3 linked regions of the Homo sapiens genome follow. The protein of the gene in region 1 purifies or fractionates together with the protein of each later gene. This does not show direct contact. Each region holds a gene or a part of one and is shown in the gene's direction. Other genes may lie near its edges. The genes, in order: TPST1, SCARB2 and GDPD5.

Evidence for each region.
Region 2: the proteins of TPST1 (region 1) and SCARB2 purify together in Homo sapiens (affinity purification with western blotting; one study listed by BioGRID). This does not show direct contact.
Region 3: the proteins of TPST1 (region 1) and GDPD5 purify together in Homo sapiens (co-immunoprecipitation; one large-scale study listed by IntAct). This does not show direct contact.

Annotation. Positions count from the first base shown.
Region 1 is NC_000007.14:66,208,178-66,211,834, forward strand, and holds part of TPST1 (protein-tyrosine sulfotransferase 1), read left to right. Parts: intron 1-3,657. UniProt on the Homo sapiens protein: Catalyzes the O-sulfation of tyrosine residues within acidic motifs of polypeptides, using 3'-phosphoadenylyl sulfate (PAPS) as cosubstrate.
Region 2 is NC_000004.12:76,172,194-76,175,850, reverse strand, and holds part of SCARB2 (lysosome membrane protein 2), read left to right. Parts: coding exon 1-60; intron 61-1,537; coding exon 1,538-1,707; intron 1,708-3,657.
Region 3 is NC_000011.10:75,436,430-75,438,987, reverse strand, and holds part of GDPD5 (glycerophosphodiester phosphodiesterase domain-containing protein 5), read left to right. Parts: intron 1-1,939; coding exon 1,940-2,052; intron 2,053-2,558. UniProt on the Homo sapiens protein: Glycerophosphodiester phosphodiesterase that promotes neurite formation and drives spinal motor neuron differentiation.

The DNA of each region.
Region 1 (3,657 bases):
TTCCAAGCCTTCTGTAGCATGGGCGCATCCCCTTCCTGGGCCCTTTGTGATCCAGAGAAAAAAGCAGTAAAGAAACAGACCATTCACTACCGTAAAATCAAGACTGTGACAGAGATGACTACAGGGTGCTCTGGGAGCATCACCCTGGTGAGAGTGAGGACAAGTTTCTGTCTACAGGCACCTAGGACTTTTTCTGACTACCCCTCCTCCTTAGTTTGGGTTAGGTGACTTTTCTTTGTGTTTCCACAGCACCCTGTACATACTTCCATCTCCATTTTTACCACTTATACCATTTTTAGTTTTTTTTTTGTGACACAGTCTTGGTCTGTTGCCCAGGCTGGAGTGCAGTGGTAACATCTTAGTTCGCTGCAACCTCTGCCTCCAGGGTTTGAGTGATTCTCGTACCTCAGCCTTCCGAGTAGCTGGGATTACAGGCGCCTGCCACCACACCCAGCTAATTTTTGTATTTTTAGTAGAGACAGGGTTTCATCATGTTGGACAGGCTGGTCTCAAACTCCTGACCTCAAGCAGTCTGCCTGCCTCAGCCTCCCAAAGTGCTGGGATTACAGGCGTGAGCCACTGTGCCCAGCCCATTTTTACTATTTATAATGTTCTGTTTTCTTATTTTTCTCACTGACTTGAGAGTGAACCCTTTAAGAGAAAGAGTTGTGTCATATCTCATTGTATCTCCAGTTTCTAGCAAATTGCCAAGTACATAGTGCTCAGTAAACTAAGTTTTCAGAAGAGCTGAATCTAGACAAGGAAAGGTAAGGGGAGATGGGCAGTTTGGAAGAGAAGGTAACATATGGAAAAGTGTGTCTTAGGCTAGGCGCGGTGGCTCACGCCTGTAATCCCAGCATTTTGGGAGACTGAGGCAGACGGATCAAGACCATCAAGACCAGCCCGGCCACATGGTGAAACCCCATCTCTACTAAAAATACAAAAATTAGCCGGGCGTGGTGGTGGGCGCCTGTAATCCCAGCTACTCAGGAGGCTGAGGCAGGAGAATCGCTTGAACCTGGGAGGCAGAGGTTACAGTGAGCTGACTCCAGCCTGGGCAGCAGAGTGAGACTCCATCTCAAAATTAAAGAAAAAAGAAAAATGTGTGATAACCTGGTGCTTTTGGGAAAGAACTGGTAATTTGGAAAGGCTGGAGAATGGGCATAATGAGCAATGAGGCTGGGAAGGTATATGGGAGCCGCTCATGAATGACCTTGTGTGTCCTAACACATAATCCTGATGATAGCGAGGAACCTTTGAAGGATTTCTTCCTGGGCAGATCTTACAAAGTCTGGCTTGTTCCCATCTCAGGCTTTGTGTCTTGCTGCATGCCTTGCCTTTTGCCTCAGCCATATAAAATCACCTCTATTACCTGAACATGCCTAAATGGCTTTATGTTTCTCTTTCTCCGTGGAATGCGTTTTCCCACTTAGCCACCTGTAGATTATACAGGCTTCTGGTTATCTCTGCAGTAAAGCATTCCCACATCTGCCTGCAATCCATGTCTCTTCATCTCTACTGTCATTTACTTGTTTACATGTCTTTCTCTACTCTAAGGGTAGGGCTTTGAAATCAGGATGGGTTTTGATTCATGTCTGCATCCCCTACTCTGGCAGGTAACATGAATGAGTATTGTGACCAGGTATATTTTGATTATGTTTATTTATTTTTCTAGAGATGGGAGTCTTGCTATGTTGCCCAGATTGGTCTTGAACTCCTGGCTTCAGGTAACCCTCTGCCTTGACTTCCCAAAGTGTTGGGATTATGGGTGTGAGTCACTGCGCCTGGCCCCAGGTGTATTTTCAGAAAAATTACTCTGATCTCTGGTAGCATTGTAGAGAACAGGTTAGAGAGGGGCAAGACTAGGTGCACAAAGACCAATAGGTGGTCATTATAGGAATGTAGGTGAAAGATAATGAGGCCAGTGAGGCTAAGGGGTTAGATTTGGGAGTGAATTTGTGGAGTAAGGAGAACTGGTTAGGTGTATAGGTGAGAGAGAGGGAGAAGGAAGGGTCAAGGATGACATACTGAGTTCAGGCTTGGGTGTCTGGGTAATGGTGGTTCTGTTCATCCAGGTAGGAAATACAGGAAAATAAACAAATTTTGAGGGAAAAGGAGGAAGCCAATGATAACATCTTGATGCCCAGGAAATCGCCTGAGAGAGCAGTTGGCCCTAAAGATGGAGATATATATGGAGGGTCTGTGCTAGAATTGAAAGTGAAGTCATCAGAAGTAGGTGAGATTGCCTGGTTCAGTGATTTTCAACATAGGCACTACTTAAAAACCACCTGGGGAGCTTTTAAAGAATGAGGATGGGGGATCGAGGCATCCACAGGGATTCTGTATCATTTGGTCTGGTGCAGGGCCAGACCTTGTTACTTTAAAGATGCTTCCCATGAGATGGTGATAGGTATCTAGGACTGAGAACTGGGCTGAGAGCCCAAAGAGGGAGTGATAGAACCCTGAAGAACAATAGTAGTAACTCATCCTTTAAATATCAGGACAGCTGGGTGTGGTGGCTCACACCTGTAATCCCAGAGTTTGGGCAGATTGAGGTGGGAGGATTGCTTGAGACCAGGAGTTTGAGATCAGCCTGGGCAACATAGCAAGATCCCTGTCTCTACAAAATAGGAAAAAACTAGCCAGGCACATGTGATGGCACATGCCTGTAGTTCCAGCCATGTAGAAGGCTGAGGCAGGAGGATTGCTTGAGCCCAGGAGTTTGAGGCTGCAGTGAGCTATGATCATGCCATTGCTCTCCAGCCTGAGTGACAGAGTGAGACCGTCTGTCTGTCTGCCACACACACGCGCGCGCACACACACACACACACCAGGATAAATATTGCCTTTGTTGACATAGTTTCTTGCTTTCCTGGTACTGTGTACATTTACCTATTAAAGGAGTTATCACATTTTATTTAAATTATATCTGCTGGGTCCATTTTTATTTTTATTTTATTTTTATTTTTTTTTTGAGATGGAGTTTCGCTCTTGTTGCCCAGGCTGGAGTGCAATGGCGCGATCTTGGCTCACCGCAACCTCCGCCTCCCAGGTTGAAGCAATTCTCCTGCCTCAGCCTCCTGAGTAGCTGAGATTGCAGGCATGCACCACTACGCCCAGCTAATTTTGTATTTTTAGTAGAGACGGGGTTTCTCCATATTGAGGCTGGTCTCGAACTCCTGACCTCAGGTGATCTGCCCACCTCAGCCTCCCAAAGTGCTGGGATTACAGGTGTGAGCCACCACGCCCGGCTGGTCCATTTTTATAGCTAAGGAATTCCTTGAAGTCTGAAACCATGCCTTATTTATCTTTTCATCACTGCCTTGCACAGTACTTGATACATTTTAGAAACTTGATAAAAGTTGGTTGAATAAATCAGTTGATAAGTGATATAAAACAGAGCTTGAACTCATGATTTTGCAAACTGACCAGCTGTTTCTTTCTTTCCTGCTTAACAAGTCACTGGTCAAATATGCGTAGTCATTCTTGTTTTAAAAACACACAGTCTTGCCGGGCGCAGTAGCTCATGCCTGTAATCCCAGCACTTTGGGAGGCCAAGGCAGGGGGATCACGGGGTCAAGAGATGGAGACCATCCTGGTCAACGTGGTGAAACCTGGTCTCTACTAAAAATACAATAATTAGCTGGGCATGGTGGT
Region 2 (3,657 bases), on another chromosome or scaffold:
TTTTCACCCACTAATAACCAAAGATGAGGTCCTTTATGTCTTCCCATCTGACTTTTGCAGGTAAAAGCTTTAAAGATAAGTTCTTTTTCAAAAATAAGGTCTTTCACTGCAAGACCACCAAAAGCATGAGGAATATATGCAGACACACTTATTATGCATGGATATTTATGCATAATCAGTGATAAATGCTGATGGCACATCGAGACAGTATAGTGTACTGGTTCACAGCACAGACTTCTGACTGTTGGTTTGAATCTTGGCTCTACCACTTATAGCTGTGTGACCTTGGGCAAATTACTTAACCACTCTGTACCTCACTTTCCTTATTTGTAAAACAAAGATAGAAATTGTTAACTATGTTAGAGGTTGTTATGAGGACAAATGAGTTAGTATTAGTCAAATACTTAGCCCAGGGCCCATCACACAGTAACCAATATTAAGTGTTGGCTCTTAGTTACTATGATATGCTCTGTCAAGCATCAACTGACCTGGTCTACTTCCAGTCAATAGGTAGTCTCTACATGGAAGCCAAATAAAAGATACTGTTGTCCATATTTCAGCAGAGTGGTTTCCTCAGGGGAGGCAGAGAAGGAATGGAATCAAGAGCATTACGTAGACAGGTTCAGTTATATCCATAATATAATTTTTATTTGTCTAAGTGGCAGATACAAAGGTATTTGTTAGAGTATTTTATCTCTTTCTGGTGCCTAAAATTTTTCATTAAAAAATGCTGTAGGGGTGGTTTGGTTTGTGCAGTGAAACCACCTATGTTATTCACAACCTTGCGAGAGATGTATCAACAGCTCTGGTTCAGAGATGAAAAAGTGAGGCCCAGAAGGCTCTTCCGGCCAGCCTTCAAAGGAAGGGCTGAAGGCTCAGTGGTGACTGTGTACATCAAAGTGGTTAGGCACTATGCAGTGTAAGCAGTGGTCATATTACATGGGACTATGTTTGAAATCAGTAAGAATGAAAGGCAGAATTACGTTGAACTCCATTTAAATAAATGACTGGGGCAAAATATGGAATCTGATTTTTCTTGGAGGGGGGGATTGAGTATCAAAGTGTGTATTCCAATAAAGTATCTGTCCAATGTGACACTTTTCAAGTGCCTAAGACCCTACGAGGCCACGGCCATCGCTGCCTGTTCTACCTTAGCTTTGGCTCTGCCGTGCCCTGGCTTCCCTGGCTTTGCCGGTGGCCCGTCCACACTGGCATATGTCCATGCAGGTCTAGAGAGGCCTCTTATTTCTTTTTTATGTGAGTCTCCATTCTAAATGTTATCATCTTAATTTTGTACCACATATTGTTTTTTCTTGTTTGGATGATATCACCGTTGCTACAATAAACACCTTCCACTACAATTCATCTTCTGCTTTATTACACGTTGAGTTGACAGAATGCCTTCCAAACATTCCTTTCTACTTACCCTGTGAGCTTTTGGCCATGTTGTACCTGAGAACTGTTGCTAACTTGCGGATTTCGGGCAGATTACACTGACCAGAGTCCACATTCACTTTTTATTCTTACATCCTAACAGGTCAGTGTATATTACTTTCAGTGACTATGAGAGTGTACAGGGACTGCCTGCCTTTCGGTATAAAGTTCCTGCAGAAATATTAGCCAATACGTCAGACAATGCCGGCTTCTGTATACCTGAGGGAAACTGCCTGGGCTCAGGAGTTCTGAATGTCAGCATCTGCAAGAATGGTAAGAACTCAGAGAGGGGACATGATAGGGGTGTCAAGAATGCAGAAGGATTGGAGTTCAACAAAGAATATGTAGCTGGGCGTAGTGGCGCACACCTACAGTCCCAGCTACTAAGGATGCTGAGGTGGGATGATCACTTGAGCCCAGGAGTTCTCAAGTCCATCCTGGGCAACATGGCGAGACCACTGTCTCTAAAAAACAAAACAAACAAAAAAGAATATATTGTCAGCCCAATAGAAAGATCAGTTTCTTTCAAGAACAATGTTTCATAACATGGCTATTGAATGGTAAAAAAAAATCATGGCTTTTCTGTGATGCTTTTTATTTCTAGAATGCCATGTTGTGTTTTTTTTTCTGGACAGTGGTTTAGAAGTCTTAACAGTAATAATAGCTCATGTTTACTAAGCACCTGATGTATGCCAGTCACTGTCCTAAGTGCTTTACATATTTACATGTAGTTAATGCATGCAAAACATTAACTGATTTCATGTTCAAAACAATGCTAAGGCTGGGCACGGTGGCTCATGCTTGTATTCCCAGCACTTTGAGAGGCCGAGATGTGAGGATTGCTTGAGGCCAGGGGTTCAAGATCAGCCTGGGCAACATAGCAAGACCCTGTCTCTACAAAAAAAAAAAAATTAAAAAATTAGCTGGGTGTGGCGGCACACACCTGTAGTTACAGCTGCTCAGGAGGCTGAGGCAGAGAGATTGCTTGAACCCAGGAGTTCGAGGTTGCACTGTGCTATGATTGTGCTGCTGCACTCCAGCCTGGGCAATAGAGTGATTCCGCACCTCCCCACCAAAAAAAAAAAAAAGCTAAAAGAAAAAGTGGACAACTCAGTTTTAAGAAAGTACGTATCATGGCAAAGATTCTCAGTGATTTTGAAGCAGAGTTAGTTTTAAACCCTGACACAAATGTCCCAGTGTTTCTTAATGTCAGAGCTACTCTGCTCCTTTCCATGAATGAGGCAGAATTATCAGTGGCACAACTGACAAAACTATTTTCTTCATCTTGAAGAGTAGTTTTAACAGCCACATGTTGCAGAATTATTCACAATGAACTTACTAGATAGTAGACATTCAGCGGCCTGTTTTTATAATTGGGGAAACTAGGGCTCAGAGAGGGAACGTGATTTTGATGCGACTCCTCCCTCTGAGCAGATCCCTGGCGGAACTCAGGGTCTTCTCATATTTGCCCTGTGATTCCCTCTTGGGCTGTAATTCCTCTTTAAAATTTCTCTGGAGAGCTCTCTGTGTAGTCCCTTTCTCCTGAATAGTAATGTGCTCACTTTTGCTCCCTTATCTATCTCATTTTAAAATCTCCTTTCAGGCCTGGCATGGTGGCGTGTGCCTGTAGACCCAGCTACTCAGGAGGCTATGGTGGAAGGGTCGTTTGAGCCCAGTTTGATTCTAGCCTGGGCAACATAGCGAGACTCCATCTTTTAAAAAAGAAAAAAAAAAAAAGAATAAGATATCATTTTGGAATAAGTCTGAAGTCAGCAGTATACCTCCTGATCCTTGTCTGACAGGGCAGTGACCCCCACACCTGGCTTTACATCAGAATTATCTGGAGAGTTATTAAAAATATATTGGTGAGGCATGGTGGATCATGCCTGTAATCCTAACACTTTAGGAGGCTGAAGCAGGAGGCTCACTTGAGGCCAAGAATTTAGACCTGCATGGGCAACAGGGAGACCCCATCTGAACAAAAAATTTAAAAATTAGCTGGGCATAGTAGCATACACCTATAGTTCCAGATACCCAGGAGGCTGAGGCTGGAGCGTAGGAATTCAAGGCTGCAGTGAGCTATGATTGCAACACTGCACTCCAGCCTGGGCAACAGAGTGAGACCTGGTCTCAAAAAACAAAAAAATTATATATATATAAAAAATTGTTTATATATACGTATATCATATATATGTGTATATATACATATATATATACAACTGA
Region 3 (2,558 bases), on another chromosome or scaffold:
CCTTCACCACTTGCCCAGGGCAGACCCTACCAAGTTTCTGCCTCTCTCTTCCCATCTTCTCCCTCCCTGGCTCTGCCTCTCCCACTGTTCACTCTTCCTGTTTACCTTTCTCTGCCTCTCCCATCTCTTTCTCTCTCTTCTTTACATTCTATCTCTAACACCCATCCCTGCTTTGCTCCCCGCAACACACAGCCTTTTCCTCATTCCCCTCAGAGGACCCCACAGTGGCTGAGCTTCCTGTTCTGGATATGCCTGGCCGAGAGACCCTGGCCTGACACTGTCCTTCTGGGTTTCAACATGAATTTCCAGGATGGGACCTAGAGCTTAGGGACCCACGTCTCCCTCCGTCTAGTGCCTTAGCCCCTCCTGGGTCAGGCAGCTTCACCAATCAGCTTCTAGGAGGAGATGCTGTCCCTGGCTATGGGACATTCCTTGAGTCATTCCTGTGTCCGCCCAGTTGACCAACATCCACATACACTGGTTGCTGATGCTGTCTGCAGCAGGAGTTGGGCCTTCTCACATGGAGCCCCAGGGTGCTGGGGAGGCCACCCCATGGTGATTCAGTGGCTGGCACAGACACGCTGGGTCTGCTCAGACACAGCCAGGGCAGTGTCATTGTCTCCTGGGGATCAGGAGAGGCCTGGTGGAGGAAGGTACCCTGGGGGACAAGGCCGGGGGAGGATACTCTTTCCCTGTGGGCCTTATTCTTCCATTCATTCACTCAACAAGTACAGGTCAGGCTCCCGGGACACGGCAGGCACTGATGGTACTGGGGCACAGCGATGAACAGAGAGAGATTTGCTCACTGCCCTCAATGATTCATAGGGCAGCCAGCCTCGCCAGGGTGTCCGTGCCACCCCCCGCCTCCTGCTTTCCCCTTGTCTGCCTGCTCTGTTCATCCATCCATCCGCCTGTCCATCTGTCTGTCCACTTCTGCTGCGCTGACCCCATCTAGTAACTCACAGTTGGTTTCTTGTGGAGTCTTGGCTCTCTCCATCCCCCAAGCAGGGTTCAGTCCCTGAGGCAGTTGGGTTCTTGTTCCCAAGTTGATCACCCCCTCCTCCTGGTGGGGACAGGGGTGAGAGTCCAGTGATCCTTCTGCCTAGATCCCAGGAAAGGTCTAAGTTCAGAGGCCAGGGACTGGGGCTAGTTCAGAGGAATGACAATAGTGAAGACAGTGGCCTGGGCTGGGCACAGAAACCTGAGTCCTTTCCACTTAGTGCCTGGTCCCTTCATGCCCTGTGCATGCTCCACCTCCCAGCCCACTCTTGAGTAATTTTACCCCCACCTTGCACCTGTCTCAGCCATCAGAGGGATTCATGCTCTGACCTCCCTCCGCATTAGGACTGCCAGGACAGAGCAGCAGTTGGCCCCACTCCAAGTCACTCTAACCCCCTTGCCTTGGGAACCTGTGCAGACCAGCTCTGGGCAAAGCCCCCTACCACCTGGCCCCACCCCCCTGCTTTCCTTCCCTCCCTCTCAAGGGGTCTCCCCAATGGCTTCACTTAGTCTGGTCATGATGGTGGAGCTATAAGAGACATCAGCTGGGACTCCCTGAGATTGGTGTGTGCCCCAGCTTAGGTCAACAGAGTCGTGCCTACTAAGCTCCTCCTGCTCCCAAATCTGTCCCATTCAAAGAGAGCCAGGTGCATTACTGGGGACACCTGAGACAGAACTAACCAACCCTAGTCCTGGGCCAGGGCTGCTGACTGGCGGCTCTGGAGGTAAGAGGGAGGCCAGGGAGCCCTGGCCGAGAGTCAGTAGGCTCTGATTCAAGCCCCAACTCTGCCCTCTCTGGGCCTATTTCCCCATTGTACAGTGGGACAAGAGTCCTGCTGGTCTCTTGGGCCACATCCAGAGAGGCTCTGGAAGTAGGCAGGGTCTCTGCTCCAAGGGAGGGCTGAGGAGAGACCTGATGCCCACGGGGCCATCTCTGCAGGTGGCGCCTGGGTGGCATACGGAGCTACAACCCTGAGCAGATCATGCTGAGTGCTGCGGTGCGCCGGACCAGCCGGGACGTCAGCATCATGAAGGAGAAGCTTATTTTCTCAGGTACACAGCCCTGCAGACAGGTGGAGGCAGGCCCTGGGCCCAGCTTTCTGCACCCCCACATGCAAACAGATGTGTATGCACACACATTCACATGTGGCACATATGGGTAGGGACAAGGGCACAGACGTACATAAACCCACCGGGATTATACCCACAGACATACAAAGGCATAAGTACACGTGTGAAAACACACACCCCCACACACACAGTCATCCACCCTGTCATCCACCATGGCTTGGTGTCAGTGCCATGGTTGGTGGGCAGGGGTGGGGTAGGGAGAGGAGTCTGTTTTGAAGGCCCATCCCCCTTTGCCTGGTTCGTACTTGGATCCTACAATGTTGGCCTCACCCTTGCTCTTTGCCAGTCCCTGTCAACATTCCCAGTCTGATGGAAGCAGCAGCTACGTATATAAACAGTGGCAGGGAAAGTCGAGTTCCTGCGATGGGAGTGCCGGGCGGGGGGCGGGAGGACGTGGTCAGAGCTGCCTGGGCAGTGAGGAAGGCTTT